Homo sapiens: one gene and its partner. Each later gene encodes a partner of the first gene's protein in a complex. Links are inferred from orthologs where the notes say so. Each region holds a gene or a part of one and is shown on either strand. Other genes may lie near its edges. The genes, in order: APBB1IP and TLN1.

Region 1 (10,769 bases):
GTTGTGAAAGGTCTAAGAAATTTAACTTCATCCTTAAACTATTAATAATGTGTGTCCTTAAACTATTAATCCTTAAACTATTAATAATTACTAATATTTGGGTTTTTTCTCAGCACTTGGGAGACCTGGGTTCTGGCTCTTATATCTCCCCCATCTAGATAAGGATGATATTGATTAACTTGCATAACTTCTCCCTGGACTTCAGATAACGTCAGTAAAGTGAGATGATTGGGCTACATTATGTCTGTTCTTAAAATAGCAATTGAGGAGTTGCTATAATTCTTTGAATTGGTCCCAACTGGAATACTGGCAACATTATATCAACATTAGAATTGCTGATCACAAATTTTTTAAAAATGGAGAAAATAATCATAACCATAACAGATTACATTCTGAAATATCAATATCTTTGAGGTCTTTTGTTTCTGAGAAGTTCCTGTAAAAGCGCAGTCAATATCTGGCCTATATGTAAAAAGGCAAATTTCCATCTTATTTGAAAACTGAGATAAGAAACAGCCCAAACTTGAACAGGTCAATATTATATTTTGAAATCTTTAAATTGCTATTTCTCAAGAAATATAACTTTGTAATATGAATTACTTTATGGCATTACTTTAAATCTTAAACACAATACTAGGTTTTATAGTATTTATTACATTTTTTGTATTTTTATATCCTAAGAATGTTCACCAGTTATCCACTATTGATTTGCCTTTTTTCACTCATCAATCAAAGTTTTAAATAGTTCCATATTATTATTAGAATGAGCTACTTATAAAGTTCATTGCCATAAATGTCTGTTTGATATGTCACTTTGAATTTTCTTTAAGCCATCTTACTTCCAAAGAGCATTATTATTTTCATTTTCTTCTAATTCTCTTCAATTTTATTTTAATTATTTTTATGCCTAAAACATTTTAGTGAGTCCACAAATCTTATAATAAATTGTCTGCGTTCCATAGCCTATTGGACCACAATCTTTACAATTTTATAGGACCCCATGAGTTTATATTATGGAGACTACGGTGATCTTAGGAATGCTTGCCTCAAAACAGAACAATTTTTATTAACACAACAGGTATCTTCTCAGTATGAAAATGAATGTGTGTGTTTTATGTCACTGCTGTCATCTAAGAGGCAAGTCACTTAAAGCTTAAGCATTTATTATAAATTCATGTACATAATAAATGCCAGATTTTAAAGTGTAAGATTTCTACACTGGTTGCATGGGGATTTTAAAATACATATTACACTTTTAATTATCGTGAGAAACATGACTTTTAGAGAAAACTGCTAGATATCTGGAACAGTAATCATTAGATTTCTCTTGAAAAGAGAGAACTAGCCGCATGAAGGAATGCCATTACACCTATACCCAGTTAAAGAGACTAGATTGTACCTGCAGCTTGGAAGGGCAGACCCTGAGGACAGCTTTTGGGGGACTAGAGGATGTGACCTGCCACCACTGCATCATCATTTCCTAGCCAATTTGTGATCCCAAAATGAGGACTCCAAAGAGGCTGGCTAAATGTGCAGAATATATTAATCTCACTGAGTGGTACCATGGAAATATCACAAGCCCCTGAGATCCCGTTGGCTCCACTGGTCCCAAACCTCAGGCATGAGCAAGCAGAGAGGTGACACCACTCCAAGGCATCACACGTTCTCATTATTCCACATATTCTGGAGCTTGATTCCGTGACTCAGTTTTAAAACATTTCCTGAGCGTTGACCATGAACTTGAATAATTAAGAATCATAAGAGCTATTTTCTTTCTTCTCTGTCAACTCAGTTTTCTCTTTGATCATCACATAGTAATAGCAAATAATAATTATTATAATGTTTACTTATAAATACTACCAGGCCCTGTACTAATTTAGATGTGTCATCTTGTTAATCATCACATCAAGATGAAAGCACAGAGAGGGTAAGAAACTTACGCAGGAAGTAAGAAACAGAGCTGTTGTTTGAACTGGGCCATCTGATGGTGGCACCCATGAAAAAACCTGGGGCCTTTCCACAATGAGTTTATAGTCTAGAAGAGGAGATGTAACTAGATGTAAGAGGAGATGTAGAATTCCATGCGGAACCAGAGTTGAGTGCTGTGGGACTACATATCAGGGTCCCTGGTCTCCCCAACCAGGGTCACGGGAGAAGGTTGAATAGAAGGAAACCAAGCAAAGAACTTATCGTGTTATCATGGGAAGACAAGTTAATATAATCAACTTTGAAGTTATTATCTTTACGTGTGCCTTGAAAAAAGAATCTGCTTTGTTAGCAATCGTGTGTTTTCATTTTTGTGTTTATTTTATTCTAATCCCACATGACAGCCGGCTAGGTTGATTAAATCAACAAGCAAGCAGTGAGTTTAATATTTTTTCTAATTCTGTTGGGGATCTTTTTGATTTAGTTTCATGTTACAGACTCATCAGTGAGATGGTTGTGGGCTGGGATGGGGGATAAAAGCTAAATCACACAGCAACTGTGTTTCCCCAAACCGACTGGAGGGTTTGCATCCAGAGAGCTACATCACATCAAACTGGAGAGAAACAAAAAATGATATTAGAGCAAGTGAATCATGACTAGATTCATTTCTTCCTTCATGTTTTATTATGAAATGTTTCATATCTACAAAAGATGATGTATATATGTAAATAACAACAAATAATAATAAAGCCAACATCTGGGTACCTATCACCCAGCTTAAGAAGTAGAATATTTACCAAGACATTTCCTGGTCTCCTTCCAATAACATTTCCCCATTTCCCAGCTAGAGGTAATCATTATTCTGAATGTGCTAATTTTTAAAAAGCTTTTAGGAAGCATGTACATACATTTGTAAAGGATGGTGTCAAACTGGGGATCAAAGAACACTGGCATGGCAGACTGGAGTCAGGTTCTCCACCGACTCTGGGTGGTCACAAGCAGCTTGTGCTGTTCAGTAAAGACAGCTTACTTTAATTGAATAGCATAAAAACAACATGTATTAGAAATAGTTAATAGTAAGTACCACGGAAATTGTGCTATCTTAGACATTGATAAAGTGACCAAGAATCATCAGTAAAGAACTATGAGTTTTAAGTGGAATAAAGAATATGTGGCCGGGCGTGGTGGCTCACACTGGTAACCCCAGCACTTTGGGAGGCTGAGGCAGGAGGATCACTTGAGGTCAGGAGTTCAAGACCAGCCTGACCAACATGGTGAAACACTGTCTTTACTAAAAATACAAAAAAATTAGCCTGGCATGGTGGTGCATGCCTGTAATCCCAGCCACTCGGGAGGCTGAGGCAGGAGAATCGCTTGAACCCAGGAGGTGGAGGTTGCAGTGAGCCAAAATCATGCCATTGCACTCCAGCTTGGGCAACTCTATCTCAAAAAAAAAAGTTTCAAGAGCGAAACTCCATCTCAAAAAAAAAAAATTACTTATATGAGGAAAATAAATAAAGGAGGCAAAAGAAAAAAAGAATATGTAACTTAGGAAGTCATCTCCACTTTATTTATTTATTCATTCATTCATTCATTTTTGAGACAGGGTGCAGGCTGGAGTGCAGCAGCACAATTAAGGCTCACTGTAGCCTCAACCTCCTGGGCTCAAGCAATCCTCCTGCCTCAGCCTCTCATGTAGCTGGGATCACAGGTGTGCGTCACCATGCCCAGCTAATTAAAAAAAAAATTTTGTAGAGACAGGGTCTCATTTTGTTGCCCAGGCTGGTCTCGACCTCCTGGGCTCAAGTGATCCTTCCACCTCGGGCTCTCAAAGTCTTGGGATCACAGACATGAGCCACTGTGCCCGGCCAGATCTCCAGTTTAAATACAATTCAATCATTTTCAGTCAAAAATGTTTGCTAAGCACTATTATAGACGCAAGGAATGTCAGTGAACAAAAGAGACAAAGATCCCTGCATTTGTGGAGTTTATTCTGGTGGACAGATACAGATGCTACTCAATAAGCATAATAAATAAGTAAATAATATAGGTATTAGTAAGCGAAAAGCAAGGTGAAGTTGCAATATGCGATAAGGTGGTCAGGCTGGGCCCTTTCGTTTGCAGGAGACAATGGAGTTAACCAAGTGGCTATCTGGGGGAACAGTGTTCCAAGCACAGGGAACAGTCGAGGCTGTAGGGCAGGGGCATGTCTGTGGATTTGAGAAGCAACAAGAAGGCCCCTGTAGTTAGAGGTAAATGAGCAAGGGAGAGAGAAACAGATGTGGTTGGAGAAGTATGAGAAGGGCGAGGAGATAGCAGATCACGTGGGGTTCCAGAGGCCATTATAAAACTTTGACTTTCACACCGAGCAAAATGGAGGGGCCATTGCAGGATTCTGAGAAGGCGAATAACATGATCTGACTTAAGGCTCACTCTGACTGCTTGAGAATAAACCTGGGGGAGCAGAGGTGAAAGCAAGGAACCCATGACAAAGCGTTGGATTCTGCGTATATTTTGAAGGAGAGCCAAGATTTCCCGACAGAAGGAATGTGGGGTGTTTGAGAAAGAGGAGTCAAGGATGACTTCAAAGTCTGTGGCCTAAACAACTGGAAGGATGAAATTGTCATCAACTAAAGTCAGCAAGTTGGAAGGGAGATGATTAGAAGTTCAATTTTGGATGTAGATATGAAGTATCATTTGGGAATACTGATGTGCTTATTATATATAAGGCTAAAAGCAGGGTAACCATTTGGGAAGATACTGTTATTGCTCCTATTTTGCAAATTAGAAATGACAGGTAAGGGAGTTTAGGAAATTTGCCCAAGGCTACACAGTTTAAGAAATGGGACATAGGCTGCGTGGTGGCTCACGCCTGTAATCCCAAACACTTTGGGAGGCTGAGATGGGTGGATCATGAGGTCAAGAGATCAAGACCATCCTGGCCAACATGGTGAAACCCTGTCTCTGCTAAAAATACAAAAATTAGCTGGGCATGGTGGTGCACGCCTGTAGTCCCAGCTATTCGGGAGGCTGAGGCAGGAGAATCGCTTGAACCCAGGAGGTGGAGATTTCAGTGAGCCAAGATCATGCCACTGCACTCCAGCCTGGTGACAGAGTGAGATTCTGTCAAAAAAAAAAAAGAGGAAAAGAAAGAAAGAAAGAAAAGAAAGAAAGAAAGAAAGAAAGAAAGAAAGAAAGAAAGAAAGAAAGAAAGAAAGAAAGAAAGAAAAGGGGACATAAAACAAAGTCTTTGCAATCCTAAAACCTTTAATTAAACTTTCAAAACTTTGAGAAGGAGTTGATCCAAAATCTTTATTAGGTAGCTAAAATAAGAATATAGTTAGCTAATCAGCAATTTTCTACCTCCATAATAATCAAAACAATGGAAATTATTTTTGAGAAGTGGAAAGCAAGAAATGAATACTTAAAAGCCCCATCCATAAATTCTTTTTTTAATTGTTCTTAATAGAGATAGGGTCTTGCTGTGTTGCCCAGGCTGGTCTCAAACTCCTGGGCTCAAGTATCCTCCCGCTTCGGCCTCCTAAAGGGCTGGGCTGGGATTACAGGCATAGGCCACTATGCCTGGCCACGTAAATTCTTAACCCATGATGTAGACTTTATGCAATACAAGGCTTCCAAGACTGTGCAGTTTAAAAACAAGATTCTGCGGAAGTTAGGACAGAGACCTTTCCCACAAAGAAGTTTTTTGTGCCCGGAGGTTTCAAATGTTTAGAATTTCAAAATCCAAACCAGATTTGGAAGATAGGAATGTTTGCCCCTTACACAACTGGATTTCAAATGGATTCAAGTGTTAGAGCAGGGCTAAAAATTCTCTAGGAGCTGTTGAAGAATGCTGGACAACACTGTTAAGATATTTGGAGAGCTGAAAGTGGTTAAGAAGTAATTACTAACAGTGATCGAGATAAGTGACATTTCATTTGTCTTAGTTATTAACTGCTATCAAGCCAGGGTAATAACGAAATAGTAATATTCAGTAGAATGCTGCTAAAAGGTATTCATTACCACCTAGTAGAACTGTGTTTTCCACGGGGCAGAAGTTCAGTCTTTCAAGTGTGTTTGTAGGATTTCACCTCAGAAAGAAAAGAACAAATTAGTTATGTGGGGCAGAAGCGGGGAATCCCACAAAATCTTTTTCAGGTGATTTCACATCATATTATAGTGTATTATCACAATTAGGTTACTGATTAAGTAAATTTACCTATGGCCACTGTTTTTATAGCATTAACAAATTCATGCATCTCTGTTGATCACATAACATTCACAGGTGACAGTTAGGGCAATGAACTCATTAGGTTTTGGATACAGTATTGTTTTCCTTTTAAGATAATGGCTTCCTTCTGATTAAATTTCATAAACGGTATGGCTTAGCAAACCAAGACTATTTCTTCATGTGTTTACTCATTCTGTGGCATTATATTTCCCTTGTTGTAAGCAACACACAGAAATGAAGCTGCTTGGGCCATGAATGTCGGTAAGTGCTATGCAGTGTGGTGAAAAGATGGCCGGCCGTGAGACCACTGCAGAATGCCCAAGCTAAAATGAACAGTACTCACTGTTCCTCAAGGCTGGGTTTACAGATTGGGCTACAGTACTGAAACACACACTTCAGCTGAATCAGACTCTGCTCAATGTAATATAATTGGAACTTTTTTTCCAGTTTCACCACACGTCTATTGATGGCCAACCCCATGCCAGTGTAGGGGGCACGTGTAGCTAAAATAGGATAAGATATGGTCCCCTGCCCAGCATGGTGGGTCACACCTATAGTCCCAGCTACGTGGGAGGCTGAGATAGGAGGACTGCTTGAGGCTGCAGTGAACTATGATCACGCCACTGCACTCCAGCTTGGGTGACAGAGCAAAACCTGTAGATAGATAGATAGATAGAGAGAGAGATAGATAGAAATAGATAGATATGGTCCCTACCCTCAAGAAGCTTCCAGTCTAGTGGGAAAGACAGGCATGTAAAAAAAATACATTACAGTGCAGAATGTGCAATGTTTGATACAGAAATAATATGGTGCAGATAATGATTATAGGACAGATATTATGGGGGGATGATCAAGAGGTGCTTTGAAGGAGAAAGGTATAGAAATGCCTTTCTAGGAGGGGTGTGGTGGCTCATGCCTGTAATCCCAGCACTTTGGGAGGCTGAGGAGGGCAGATCACGAGGTCAGGAGATCGAGACCATCCTGGCTAATACAGTGAAACCCCATCTCTACTAAAAAAGTACAAAAAATTAGCCAGGCATGGTGGTGGGTGCCTGTAGTCCCAGCTACTCGGGAGGCTGAGGCAGGAGAGTGGCATGAACCCAGGAAGCGGAGTTTGCAGTGAGCCGAGATCGCGCCACTGCACTCCAGCCTGGGTGACAGAGTGAGACTCCGTCTCAAAAAAAAAAAAAAAAAAAAAAGAAATGCCTTTCTATACCTTGTGGCCAAATGGAAGAAAGATACGCCAGGCACCAGATGTGTAAAACACTTTAGCAGTGCTGAAGCATAAAATGCAGTGGGAAAGGAAATGGGGAGAATCTAATGTAACATAGAATGAGTAATATTCAGATTACATTAATGTGATGTGGTCCCTGCAACCCAACATATTTGAGTCAAATACTGAGGCGCTTGCAATAACAGAACTGTAGCACTCTGGAGCAGAGCTGTCCAGTAGAACTACAAAGCAAATTACATGTTTAACTTTAAATTTCCTTGGTGCCACATTAGAAACAGTAAAAAGAACCATGACTTTTCTTTTTTTTGAGGGAGGGCCTCACTCTGTCACCCAAGCAAGAGTGCAGTGGCATGATCACAGCCACTCCCATCCCATTTTTTTATTTTTTTGAGAAACGAGGCACTATATTGCCCTGGCTGGTCTTGAACTCTTGGGCTCAAGCAATCCTTCCACCTCGGCCTCCCAAAGTGCCGGGATTATAGGTGTAAGCCACTGTGCCCAACTGTGATGTTAATTTTAATCACTTATTTTATTAAATGATATATCCAAAAATGATAATAGCACTCTGGATCAAATGATTATTTTTGGATATTTCATTTAATAAAATAAACTATTAAAATGTGAATTGTTTGAAGTTATATTAAATTTAATGTTTGAAATTATATTTAACAGTAAAAATCAAGTGACATAAATTTTTACTAAAAATTTTAAAAATAATATATTAATTTTGATATAATTGAAATTATGTTACATTTAAGTAATAGTAAGATTATTTCATTTTTTTAATTTTTGTAGAGATGAGGGTCTCACCATGTTGCCCAGGCTGGTCTCACATTTCTGGCCTCAAGTGATCTTCCCACTTCAGCCTCCCAAAGCACTGGGATTATAGGCATCCTGCCAGTAATAGTAAAATTATTAATGAGCTATTTTATTCCATTTTTTAATACTAAGTCTTGCAAATCCAGTGTGTTTTCACACTTACTGCACATCTCATTTCAGACTAGCCACAGTTAAAGTGCTAAATGGCCTCATGTGGCTAGTGGCTGAATTGGGCAGTGCAGATTGAGATAAATTCACAAATATTGCATCCTATACTATGTGTTGACTATGCAACTGAAAGGAGGATATTAGGTGAATTCTAAAGTATTCAGAATTTTTTAGGGTAAAGGAAGTAAACAGCATTTGCAATTACTTTGGGGCCTGTCCCTACAATCTGATTTTAATTCATCTTTAAACCTACACCCAGAATGCATTATTTGCCCTCTAGTAACAAAACAACCTCAGATAGTCATTTGCTTGCTTTCCTTTTTATCCTCTTTCTCCCCCAACTCCCCACCACCTTATATATTATGGATTCTGCCTAAAAGTAAGAAGGACTGAAAAAGAACTGGAAACAAATGGCGAAGCAGGATGCCCTCAACCCACATCCGGCAAAATGTGATCTGTTGCCCTAGGCAACCATGGTGGTCAACTCTTCTGTTTTCTTTTTTTTGCTTCCACCTGCTAGTTCACAAGCATAACACTCTCATCGACAGCCACTCTCTTTGTGGCGGTTCTCAGCTCCAAAAATACGCCTGTCTTTCAGGGGAGGGCAGTAGTGCTAAGATTTGGAAAATGGGTTGGAGATGCGTAGGATATGACTCAAAAAAGACTCAAGGAGATTCCAGTGCAGTTCTTTCCTTGTTAAGAATGGTTACGGATCCCTGTTCTAGAAACTATACTTACAGATGTCCTTCCAGTGGCTTAGTCTTTTAAAAGCGTGCCTGACCTACAAAGAAAAATGGCAGTTTAACTCAGTCTCCAGGTGCATGAAGATGCAACAGACAGAAGTAACCATCCCCTTGTGGACTTGGGTGTGTGTTTATGTTTGTGTGTGTATATCTGTGTGTGTGTGAAAGAGAGAGAGAATAAATGACTGACACTTTTTTTTTCCACTGCTGGTTTTAGAGGGAAAACACAATAATAAAAATGATGATGATGATGAGGATGATAGAAATAATAGCTGATATTAAGCACTTCATATGCACCAGGCATTATAATGAGTACATTACAAGCACTAACTACCTCATCCCTATGAAGCAGGAACTGTTGTTTTGTTTTGTGTGTGTGTCTGTGTGAGCCTTTAGTTTCTTTCTAAATTCCAGTTGAATAGAAGTATTGGCATTTGTTTCAAGGGGATATCATCTTGATTGACTAAAAGTGTTCCAGGTATCAAATCATTACTGCCAATGTGATTCCATATTCTCCAATATAGTTGTCAAATTTTCTCATCAGAACCCACTCAAAGGTGCTTGAAGTCCAGGCACTGTGGTTTATGCCTGTAAACGCAACTCTTTGGGAGGCTGAGGCAGGAGGATCCCTTGATCCCATGAGTTGGAGACCAGCTTGGGCAATACAATGAGACCCTGTCTCTACAAAAAAATGAAAAAGCCAGACATGGTGGCATTCTCCTGTGGTCTCAGCTACTTGGGAGGCTGAAGCAGGAGGATTAATTGAGCCCAGGAAGTCGAGCTGCAGAGAGCCATGATCGTGCCACTATACTCCAACCTGGGTGACAGAGCAAGACCCTGTCTTAAAAAAAAAAGTGCTTGAGTATCAGCAACATCCTGTCAGAAATGGTAGTATGGAAAGTAAAATTATGGAGAATGGTTTACAGCATCTCAGAGAAGGGTATAAGAGGGCAAAGGGGGTTGTGTTAAACGCTGGGCAGTTTTGCAGTGGATCAAACACGGGCATTGGAATTGGCATTATATTTATTGGAAGGCTTATAAATACTCAGCCATTAAATGCGTCTGTACATGCAAAGCACTTAGAATAATGCCTGGCATGTAGCATGCGCTCAAAAATCAAATATCTTGTTTCAAACATTTAGAACAAAACAAAATTAAATCCCCCCTAGAAGTTACCATTGAAAACAACTCAAGTATTATCTCCTTGTATTTTGACATTTTGAAAAGAACTCAAGTATTATCTCCTTGTATTTTGACATTTGAAATAAGCCTTTGTTATCCACATGCCTCTAAGGGCATGAAACATTGTAGATTAAACACAATTTCACAGCCACTGTGTTTTAGTCAAATAGTCCATAGGTAGATGATAAGAGTATACACTAATATTTTTATTCTTTTCTTTATTCTTCTCCTTCTCTTTGTTAAGCAGTTTTGGACAATTACTCTTTGTGGAACACTCCACTATGGCTGTGGAAAACTAGTAAATGTAAAGTTGTTCCCTGACCCCTGCCCTCCTGGAACTCAGATTCTTTTTTTTTTTTTTTTGACACTGAGTACTGAGTCTCACTTTGTCTCCCAGGCTGGAGTACAATGGCTCAATCTAAGCTCACTGCAACCTCTGCCTCCTGGGTTCAAGCGATTCTCATGC
Region 2 (10,769 bases), on another chromosome or scaffold:
CACTCATCTGCCCACAATTCTTGTGTGCCTGTGCATAAAATGGGGAAGAATTTAGCAAAGAGTTTCATATCACAGCTAAGGAATTAAGGTTGGATGCTAACTCTAACGAGAGAGAATTATGGGGACACTGGAAAGGTTGAGGAGTACAAGATATGAGAACGAGAGGGTAACGGGATGGAGGCTGATAAGGGCTATGCAGAAGCGATGAGTCAAGGGATACAGTCAAGGAACTTGCAGACATTCTGGAGATATGAACAGAGAGTTTGGAAGTAGAAGGGCAAAGAGAAGGCCTTCTGGGCTGAGTATTCAGAGTGGGGGTAACACCTTATAGTGGACAAAGACTATACTCTTTCACAGTAATTTCAGATTATGCTACCTCATTTGATCCTATCAGTCCTACACGGGGCAAGTACTGTTATCCCAAATCAGAGGTAAATAAAAGATTACAAGAATATTGAACTGAATTGCACAGCAAAAGCAGGGATGGAGCTGAGACTAAAAGCCCAAGCTGTCTGCTTTCTTGGCAGAGGTGAGGTGGGATAACAGCCCGGTGGGTGAAAGCCAAGTTAGGGGAGACGGGGAGGAGGCAGGGGGCCATTTAGTCAGTAAGATTAAGCAGCAAAGCTCCGCGGTCATCCCAAATACTTTCCCCTACCCACATTCACCTGGAAGATCTTACGCTCTCCCTTCTGCTTCACATACTCCTTGGGCAGGAAGTCCTTCAGGCTACACCAGAAAAGGGAGGGTCAGCATGTGGTAGACAGCATCAGGGGACATGTGGGCCATGAACTGTGGGCCTGGGGGTATGAGGAAATACCTAGGACAGTGTTATCTTTGGGGAGAAAAAAGACTCTGAGGGAATAGAGTCTAGATTATCTTCTGAAATAGAGGTGACTTCGTGTAAACTCTTCTTTTTTTTTTTTGAGATGGAGTTTCACTCTTGTTGCCCAGGCTGGAGTGCAATGGCACGATCTCAGCTCACCAAAACCTCCACCTCCCAGGTTCAAGTGATTCTCCTGCCTCAGCCTCCCGAGTAGCTGGGATTACAGGCATGTGCCACCACGCCTGGCTAATTTTGTATTTTTAGTAGAGATACATGGTTTCTCCACGTTGGTCAGGCTGGTCTCGAACTCCCGACCTCAGGTGATCTGCCCGCCCTGGCCTCCCAAAGTGCTGGGATTACAGGTGTGAGCCACCGAGCCTGGCCAGTATGAATTCTTAATGTGACCTGTGTCTCTCCCTGTAGGGAAAGGGACTGAGGAAAATTAAGTTAGAGGCTCAGTCCCTGAGGGAAAGTGGGTCTAGAGCACCATTTCAGGGAACCAAGAGGAGAAAGAGCTTTCTAGAAGGATGAACATGCACTTAGGAAGCTGAGAAAGCCACGCCAAACTCTGCATTCCAAGAAACACCAGCAGATGAGGCTTGTGAGACTTTTAACCCATGTTCCCTATAGGGAAAATTTTACCCGGTTTCCCTCTGGCTACTGCAGCAAAATTCTTCAGATAATCTCAAAAAAGAGTGACATGCTTGCTTCAGAGATGGGGGTAGGGGCAGAGATACTGAACTACATTCATATTCCAGAGGCAGAGAAGAGACAATGGATGATGGCAACTAAAAGGGTAGCTATGTTGGTCAAACCCTGGTACCTCGGAAGAAGAAATAGTGGGGGGCAGGCTTGGAATGGAGACAGGCCCACTGGGGTCACAATGGCAGGGAGTCCTGGGCCCTGACAGGGTATAGGATGTGGGTCACTCACTCAAGGAAGCCAGCCTTGTGCTTCTGCTCATTGTGGGGCCCAAACTGGATCTGGCATTGGAAGCCAGCAAACTCACAGGCCTTGTCAAAGGAGACAGGGTGGGAGCCATTCAGGATGTCATCTCGTGCCTGGAGAGCACAGGGCAAGGAGGCGAATGTTGTGTGTGGGTGCAAGGACACGCACACTGTGCTTCCGAGCCCTCCCTATTCCTGCCCCACCCCAGCCAAGTCCTCTGCATACCTGCACATACAGGAGGTTCAGCTGTACAGGGTCCCGGGAATCCACATTCTGGTCTGAGTAAAAGAACTTCCTCCGCAGCAGCAGCGTCTCGTGCTCCTCTACACCCTGCTCCCTCAGTGTCCGACCATGGTCCAGCCAGTTCACTGGGATACAGACAGTCCCCTCAGTGCCAAACCCCCATGGCCCCTGTGCTGTCTGGTCTCTGTTTATTTCTGCATTTCCTACCTCCCCTCACTTAAATGTAAGTCCCATGAGTGTAGGACTTTGTTTTCTCACTGATGTATCCCCAGGGTGTAAAACAGTGCCTGGCAGAAGCAGATGCTGAAGCCCCTTCCCACCCTTCCCATTTCAAAAGCCCTCTTTTTTCTAGTTCTGCTTACACTCATCATCTGTGTGCAATTTCTGCTTTAGTTTCTCCATCTTCTTTTCATCTCGCAGCAATGTCTTGTCCTTTCTTAAGGTCCCTGTTATTTCCTCCTTTTTCTCTTCCATCAGCTCTCGAACCAATGAATATTCATCATGATTGGTGATGCCTGAGGAAGGAGATGGCTTGTTAGCTTCCCAGGTACTGCATCCATGCCTTTTGAGAGAGTTGAGGCTTTCTGGCCCAGGCTTTCAACTGTACTAGGGCCCCTTACCAATGCGGGCACAGATGGTCATGAGCATGTCAGTGACAGTCTTAGAGTCATCCACCATGATCGTCTTCACAGTTCCATCCAGCATACGGATCTTCAGGGGTCTCTGTTTCTTCCTGTACTCCATAGTGTCCTGTTAGGGCAGGAAGAAGAGACAGGGGCCTACTCTGAGCTAGGGGTATTATTTCCTCTTTACACAGCCCGAGGGGAGAGAGTGGAGCACTGAAAGGAAGACTATGGTGGTTCGTTCAAAAGCAGGGAATTATGACTGTCTGTTAATAGGAAGAAAGCATGGGGAGGGCTAAGAGACAACAGATGTGGGTGCTGAAAACAGGAGGTGGAACAGGGAGAAGCTGATGGAAGGGGATGTGGTGGTCCTTGATGAAAGGATACTTACCCCATTTCGGAGCATGTAGTAGTCCAAAGCTTTCCCAGCCTCCAGCCATATACCCTTTTTGGGGTCATCATCTGACAGAAAGAGCCCAAAGTCGCTGGCTAAAAGAGAGGATGGATCACTTTAGGCTTATGAAGACCCCAATGTGGCTGAACAGCTTGTACCATGTTGCCCCTGACTATTTCTCCCATGACCTTGGGCCTAAAGAACGAGGGAACCATGGAACACAGACCTGAGGGGTGAGTAGTCTTAGGGGACAAAGGGGTCAACTCTCAAGGCCGAGAGCCTGGGAACAAGAAGGGACTGAAGACTCCCACTCCAGCCACCGGGGGAGTCAGACTCACGAGGACCAGCTGGGGCCTCTGGGATCCGCTCACGAATGATGCGGCAGGCGTCGTACACCATGGTAGACGGCTCAAACTGCATCGTCTTCACCACATTCCCAATGCTGATCTTCAGTGAAAGTGCAACCATGGTGGCAGCTTCTTTTCTCCAGCCTGGCTATACCTGACCCATGGCATCAGGGCATTAGAATACACTCTTCTGGTGGGAGAAGAGGCCCCCCAGATGGTGGAGTCCAAGGGAAGAGTGTTTTTGAAAGGGACTCACCAAAGTAGATGGTAATAAGGTTGTTTTCATTGTATTTAATAATTTTAAAGAGTGAAAAATTATTTACATCAAAAGAATGAGTCCTGACAATTTTTTTTTTTGAGACAGAGTTTCGTTCTGTTGCCCAGGCTAGAGTACAGTGGTGCGATCTCAGCTCGCTGCAAGCTCCGCCTCCTGGATTCACGCCATTCTCCTGTCTCAGCCTCCCCAGTAGCTGGGACTACAGGCGCCCGCTGCCATGCCTGGCTAATTTTTTGTATTTTTAGTAGAGACGGGGTTTCACCATGTTAGCCAGGATGGTCTCGATCTCCTGACCTCGTGATCCACCTTGGCCTCCCCAAGTGCTGGGATTACAGGCGTGAGCCACCACGCCCGGCCAAGTCCTAACAATTTAAGACATCTGAGGGAAAGGAGAAGCTGGTCTGCAAGGTACAATAGCAGGTCTGAAATGCAGTGCTACCTGAGGACACTGCCCTGCCCCACCACTGGAATTTGTACCTCCCTACTTTCATCCAAGTATCTCTCTTGCCCCTTGTCCCTGATCACCTTTCTCAGCCCTACTCCTGCCTTCTTTTCATTTTTGCCTGGTTCAGTATTTTTCTCTCTTTGTCTCCTGCTGTGTCCTGCTGGCTCTTCCCTGTCCGGGATTTTCAGAGCTCTCTTCTCACCACGTGACCTTCCTTCTCATGGCTTTAGCTGCCTTCTCTGCAAAATGAAGATGTTATAATTCCCTAAGGCTCTTGAAGCCTGCAAACAAACTCTAGCTAGCCTGGCAGGGAGACCAAATACTGGTTGCTCAAGCCATTCAGGGGTCCGCTCTTGCCCCAGCTTTTTTCTAACCTGAGATGCGGGGGCCTTCTGAAGGAGCCTAGCCCTGTACTGGGCTTCCCAGGCAGTCAAGCTAGAAATGTGATTCTCTAACTCAAAGGGATCTATCTCAGAAGTTATCTGGTCAACTCTTGTGTTTTGGAGAAGGGGAAATAGACTCTGGGAGGCCAGGAAACATTTTCAAGACAGGCCAGAGAAAGGACCCAGTCCCTGTAACTCAGTCCTTGCTTGTTCCAAGTCATCAAGTTAATACTCAGTCCTGCAACTCCTCCCATGCTTTCTCCTCTTCAGCAAGTCTGTCTCGAATTCTGCTCTGTCTCACCCACTTCCCCTGACTGTATTTTCAGTGCAGCTCAGAATACTAGTCCTACCCCACCTTCTTCCACCCTCCTGGCACCCCCTCTCAGCAGGCTAGAGGAGGCACTGGAGGCAGCAGGTGGCGCACAGGCTGCAAGAGGACAAGTCTGCCCGGCTGCTGCTGATGTGCCCCTGCTTGGTACAGGGATTGGGTGCCTCTTAACTAAGAGAATGGGCAAATACAAGCTGCCCATTCCCCTCCTGGCAAACTACAAGCCTCAAATGGGGAAAAGCAGGGTGAGAGGGGAAGGCTGGAAAGCAGAGATGGGGGTGTTAGGATACAGAAGGCATTTGAAAGCCAGGGAAGTTAAGAAGGGGTAGAGGGTAAAGAAGTTAGGAGAGATGGGATGAGGAGAATTGAAAATCTAAGTAGAAACAAGAGACAGGAGGCAGGTATGAAAATGGTCTAGATCAGCGGTCTGGTACCAAGTGGCAGATAGACCATTTCTGACCTTACAAGCAGTCCAGAGTCTCAAAAGAGAAGAACCACAGCTCTCTGTCTTTACTCCCCAATAAGAGAGGACCCTCCCAGTCTCCCCAGTTCCAGCTCTCTGCCCCCTCCCCACTCCTGGGGCACTTTGCCCAACCTTATTACTATCCGCTTGTGTCCCAGCTGGACAGACCTGGCTATGGGGTTGCTGACCATGAAAGAATGAGGGCTGGGCTGGTGGATCCGAGAAGCTGGAGGAGTCTGTGGAGCCAAGAAGCAGGACTGAAAGGACCCTTCACACTAAGCTGAAACTGCATGTCTCCCCCCATTTCCTCTGGACACTTAGACACCCCCTTCCTCCTCAAGCACGGAAGCCTCTGGTGAGACCCCGATAAGGGAGCTGAGTCATGCCTACCCTTACTCCCCAGCTGGTCCAGAGTGGATATTCACACAGCTACAAGAGGGTGTGTGGACGCGAAGAACTGATCAGTGAATTGTGGGTGGTGGTGGCAAAGAACAAGGCTGCTACAAGTATGAGTAGAAGCTAGCTCATTCCTCCTTTGGCCTGAGAACTTTGCTCCCTTTTCCATTGTGTTTGATGGAACAGCAACTCCCCACTGCCGTGTCCCCCTCCCAGGGAACTCCTCCTCCCTCAATACATTCCTGCGATGCATTCCAAAGAAGTTGGGCAATTGGAGGGGGGGAATGGAGGACAGGAGGTCAAATCCCAGCAAGGAATGGAATGTAAGAGTATTGGAGCTAAGAAAGTTGGGGTACTTGGAGAATATAGTCAGAGCAGATACCCACAAGGGGAATTGCAGAAAGATAGGGAGTTACAGACAGGAACAAAAGGAAAGAGCTTAAGACAGTCAGAATATAAGAGGGATGGGGGAGTAACACTCAGTCTGTTACCAAATTTGGCCTCTGAGTCCGCAACCGCTGGCAGTGGGGGAGGGCTGTGGGTGAGACTGACATATCCGGCCTCAGGCTGCTGGAGACTCATTTAGAGCTGGACTGGGCAGCTAGCTGAAGGGCTGCACAGAACTTCCCCCGGTACAGCCCCTCCATACTCAAATGCACACTCATTCTCCCCAGATGCACCCCAGCCTAGGCAGAGCTCTTTCCCACAAAGCTACCTTACTCTCTCTATACACACATTATCTCAATCACACAGCCCCCACACAGATCCCATCACGACTGCATTATCTTCTCCTAGGGAGCCCATCCTATGCACACAGCTTTTGCACAGATAACCTCCATAACAAGCACACCCGGCACCCAGTGTCTCTCCTCCCATTATGTAGACATTCTCCATTCACCCAGCAAGCATTCCTTGAGGGCCAGCTGTGGGGAAGACCCTGGGCCAAACTTTCAGTGGCTGGGGACCAAGATCAGTAAGACCTAGCCTTTGAGTTCAAAGGGCTCCCAGTCCACGAGATGAGTGAATAAGCCAAGTACAGAATCACAACGGAGGGCAGGATGTGGTAAGAGCCAAAAGGTGTGTGCTCAGAGAGATCCCTTTAGGTCAGGGAAGGGGAACCAAAAAGTCTCCATGATAAGTATCATTTGAAGCTAGAATTTTAAAAAATAGAGATAATAAAAAACAATAGTGATCTGCCATTTATTGACTATGTCACTTGCATTGTATACATAATTTCATTTAATCCTTACAGTAGGTGTCATTATTTCCATTTTTACAGATCAGAAAACAGACTCAAAGATGTTAAATACTTGTTCAAATACTTCTCCAAATAATAAGTTGTGAAGCCAGGATCCGAACCCAGGTTTCTGACTGCAAAGCCCAAGCTTTCTCCACTACGCCAGCCAGCTGGAGATGTGTCAGGGGTAGTTTTCACTCCAGGCAGAGAAATAGCATAAGCAAAGATGGAGAAGCAGTAAATCGTGGAGGAGCATTCAGGGAAGTGAGCAGGCAGGCTGTTGAAGCACAGGGGTACCTGCAAGGGAGCAGTGGTGGGGAAGTCAGGGTTAGGATGGAAAGGCAGAGGAAGACTGGAGAGGGGTATGAGGAATTTTACTTATTGGAGGACAAAAGGAAGCCAAGGGAGTCTTTGAGCAGAGAAGAGACATAACCGGAACTGGATTTTAGAAAAATAACTCTGGCAGTTACCTTGGAGATTAGTTAGAAGGACACTGTATTAGTACAAATTAAAGGTAATGAAGCCGGAGTTGGAATGGCATTGAGGAAGATGTCACTCAGAACAAGTTTGGGGAGGTAGAAATGACAGGACCTAATAACTACTAAGGTAGACAGGTTAGAGTCCCACAGCTTCCTATCATCAGCAGCCACTTTAGCGGCTGGGGCAGCTTGAGTTTAGGCGACGAATTGGGAAGAGGGGAAAGGATCAGGTTGGGCAGAGAATGTGAGGATGAGGCTGTGGTTACGGGATGTGGTTAGGCTGTGGGGAAAAAGGGTATGAGTATATGATTAGTAGCCACTAGGGGCAGATGGGGTTGGGTTAGTGACTGCATCAGGCTGGGAATGGGGAAGACAGGGTGTAGAAAAAGGATGAGAAGACAGGGTGTAGAAAAAGAATGCTGGTGATGATGGTGTTTGGAAAAATACATATACATAAGATACATATATGACCAGTCACTGCATCAGGTTGGGGGAAGGGGAATGATTACATGGATGGTGGCTAAGTCAGGGAATGATGGGGTGAGGTCAGAGGCCAGGTCAGGCTATAGGAGGTTGAGAAGAGCTGGGCCTGTGGTCAGTCACTAAATCAGACTGGGGTGGGGGTGGGAAAGTGAAGGGACATTGGCAATGTCTAAGTAAAGCTGGAGCTGGGATGGGGGATGGGGTACAGCCAGTGGCTGGGTCAGGCTGAGTAGAGGATAGTGCTGTGGTCAGTGGCAGGGTCAGGCTGGGAGTGAAGTGGGGGTGTGGTCAGTGGCCTGGCTGGGCGTGGGATCAGCAAGACCCAGTTTCCTCTTTGGGTCTCGTTTCCTCTTTTCTGTTGGGGAGTGGGGGAAGGGGATCTACAAATGGTCCAAGAAATTAAAAGAGGCTTAGATCCAGGGGGTGACACACAGCAGGGGATGGGAGTAGGGTATTCAGCAGATGACCAGGTGGAATGTAGGTACATGACTGGGTGAAAATGGTAGGAGAGTAATTTAAAATGATGGGAAAGCTCAGGTTTTGATGAGGGTAAATTCAGGTAGGATGTGCGGATTAAAGGTTGGTGAGGGAGGTAGAACTAAGGATGGGAACGGATGATAAGATGAGCATGGGAGAGTTAAAGGCAAGGGAAGTATTTTGTAAGGGGATAGGCAGGATGGGTGTGAAATGCAGAGTCAGGGATGAGAGTTGGAGAGGAGGGCTTAATACCAAGAGAACAAGTGAAGTGGGAGAAGCAGGGCTAAACTTTCAGGGGATTCAGTTATTCCCTTCTCCCATGGCAACAGTGATTCCTTGGTTAGCTTCCCCCATAGTCATCAGCTCCTTCTTCCCTAGGCAGTCCCCAACTTGTGACTAGGCCTTGTACATCCTGGGTCCCTATTTCCCACCTATGTTGTCTGTAAACAACACAGTCCAGAATCTCTGTCCCCTAACTGTGGTGGCCACAGCAAGGGCCTTGGGCTTAGAGAATGGAATAAAGAAGCTGGAATCCCAGATGCCTGCAATTCTAGCTAAAGCCAGAACGCTAGCCTGAAATTAGTTTATCTCTCTGGGTAAAAAGAAGCCCCTGTAACTACATAGGAATAAAGGATTTCCCTACAAAAGAAGGGCATTTACCTACTGCCAACCTCTTAAATTTTATCTGCTCAAGGTCAACTATGCTAGCCTCAAACCACAACCCCTAAAGCTGCCCCAAATTCCTAACATTAACCCCACCTCTAATTTGTTTCCTGATTCCCAGTACCGGCTTGGACATTCATCCCTTTCCTAGCACAGACTCATATCCAATCCCTGATCCCTGAAACTGATCTAAGTTTTGCCTTTAGCACCAAATCCCCTGATGTTAACCCTAAATGTTGACCCCTAAGCCTAAAGTTCATTTATAATTTGATTCCTAACTCACGCTTTCACTGTTTATCCTTAACACCGACCATGCCAACATTCTTTAATCCCTCAAACAAGCTCTAACCTGATTCCTGTTGTTTGTTGACCCTTAACCTGACCCTGAACTCAAATTATGACGTATGATGGCCATCCCAGCAAACAAGATAATGACCGTAATCTAAACCTTACCTATCTAAAACGGACCTGACTCACACTAACTCTTAAGTTTTAACCCCAGCTTTTAACTCCTATAGCGACCCTTGATTCCTAAACGGACCCCACCTAATCCCCAACTCACCCAAAGCTTTCCTACCCACATGCCCGCTATCAGCTAACACCAAAGCCCGTCCCCGCCCTGCGCCCCGCTGCCACCCGACTCCTCACGCTCCCCAAAGCCTATCCCAGACATAGGACTGCTCCCAGGAAAGGCCTGTCTTCCCCAAGACGGCCTACTTCACGCCGAGCTCAAGCCGAGATGCGCTGGACGCTGACCTCTCCAACTAATAGGACCCGAACCGGACACGCAAGAGAGGCAGGGCCCGCCCGCCCCGGGGCCAGGCCCCGCGGCCCCACCCTAAGGCCCCCGCCCGGCCCGGTCTGGCCTACCTGCGCTGCCTGGCTCTGCGCCCCGCCCGCCGGCCCGCCGCCCCGCCGCTTCTCGGGTCGCCCTCGGGCTCCGGCCTCGCCCTCCCTTCGACACTCTCTCGGCCACTTCCGTCCTGGGAACGTCCCCCACCCGCGGGCGGCGCCCTGGGCCCGCGCTCTATGGTCGCGGGGGGCAGGCAGGAAGCTGCTCTGGCCCCGTTCTCGATGCTCGGGAGCCGCCAAAGCCCGGCAGCCCCTCCCTGGCAGGAAGCGAGGGTGCGGCGCAATCCGGAGAGGACGCCAGGACGACGCCCGAGTTCCCTTTCAGGCTAGAACTCTTCCTTTTTCTAGCTTGGGGTAGAAGGCGGAGCCGGAGCCCCGGAACCCCCGCCCTCGGGGTGCGAGGCGGCAGCAGGGCCGTCCCCTACATTTGCATAGCCCCTGGGACGTGGCGCTGCACCCAAGCCTCTTCTCAGTTGGAGGGAACTCCAAGTCCCACAGTGCCACGGGGTGGGGTGCGTCACTTTCGCTGCGTTGGAGGCTGAGGAGAATTGAGCCTGGGAGGCGGGTCCGGAGAGGGCTATGGAAAGCCGCCGGCGGGGAATCCCGGCCGTAGAGGGACAGTGGATAGGTGCCCGAGGCCTACAGCTGGCCTGGGGCTCGTGTCTGGGCTTCGGACGTTGGGGCCCGGTGGCCCACCCTTTCCGTAGTTGTCCCAAATGGAGCTGGAATTGGATGCTGGTGACCAAGACCTGCTGGCCTTCCTGCTAGAGGAAAGTGGAGATTTGGGGACGGCACCCGATGAGGCCGTGAGGGCCCCACTGGACTGGGCGCTGCCGCTTTCTGAGGTAGGTTGGGGTTCTGACTGGGGAAAGCGTGGGATGTCCATGAAGTCAGGTGATGGTGATAAG

Evidence for each region.
Region 2: the proteins of APBB1IP (region 1) and TLN1 are in contact, whole or in part, in a crystal structure (PDB 4W8P), measured with the Mus musculus proteins. The link is inferred for Homo sapiens from one-to-one orthologs. Residues at the interface, in NP_062329.2 of Mus musculus: Asn5, Ile8, Asp9, Met11, Phe12, Thr14, Leu15, Glu18, Met19, Leu21, Leu22, Ser25; in NP_035732.2 of Mus musculus: Leu1492, Ala1495, Thr1496, Val1498, Ala1499, Thr1502, Ser1503, Cys1506, Asn1507, Arg1510, Val1526, Ala1529, Lys1530, Ala1533, Asn1534, Thr1536, Ala1537, Val1540, Ile1543, Lys1544, Asp1547.

What each region holds. Positions count from the first base shown.
Region 1 is NC_000010.11:26,440,041-26,450,809, forward strand, and holds part of APBB1IP (amyloid beta A4 precursor protein-binding family B member 1-interacting protein), read left to right. Parts: intron 1-10,769. UniProt on the Homo sapiens protein: Appears to function in the signal transduction from Ras activation to actin cytoskeletal remodeling. Suppresses insulin-induced promoter activities through AP1 and SRE. Mediates Rap1-induced adhesion.
Region 2 is NC_000009.12:35,722,196-35,732,964, forward strand, and holds the start of TLN1 (talin-1), read right to left. Parts: upstream 10,001-10,769; 5' UTR 9,880-10,000; intron 3,533-9,879; 5' UTR 3,500-3,532; coding exon 3,370-3,499; intron 3,127-3,369; coding exon 3,029-3,126; intron 2,765-3,028; coding exon 2,635-2,764; intron 2,530-2,634; coding exon 2,377-2,529; intron 2,140-2,376; coding exon 1,997-2,139; intron 1,885-1,996; coding exon 1,757-1,884; intron 727-1,756; coding exon 666-726; intron 29-665; coding exon 1-28. Other genes in the region: CREB3 (cyclic AMP-responsive element-binding protein 3), read left to right, coding at 10,578-10,706. UniProt on the Homo sapiens protein: High molecular weight cytoskeletal protein concentrated at regions of cell-matrix and cell-cell contacts. Involved in connections of major cytoskeletal structures to the plasma membrane.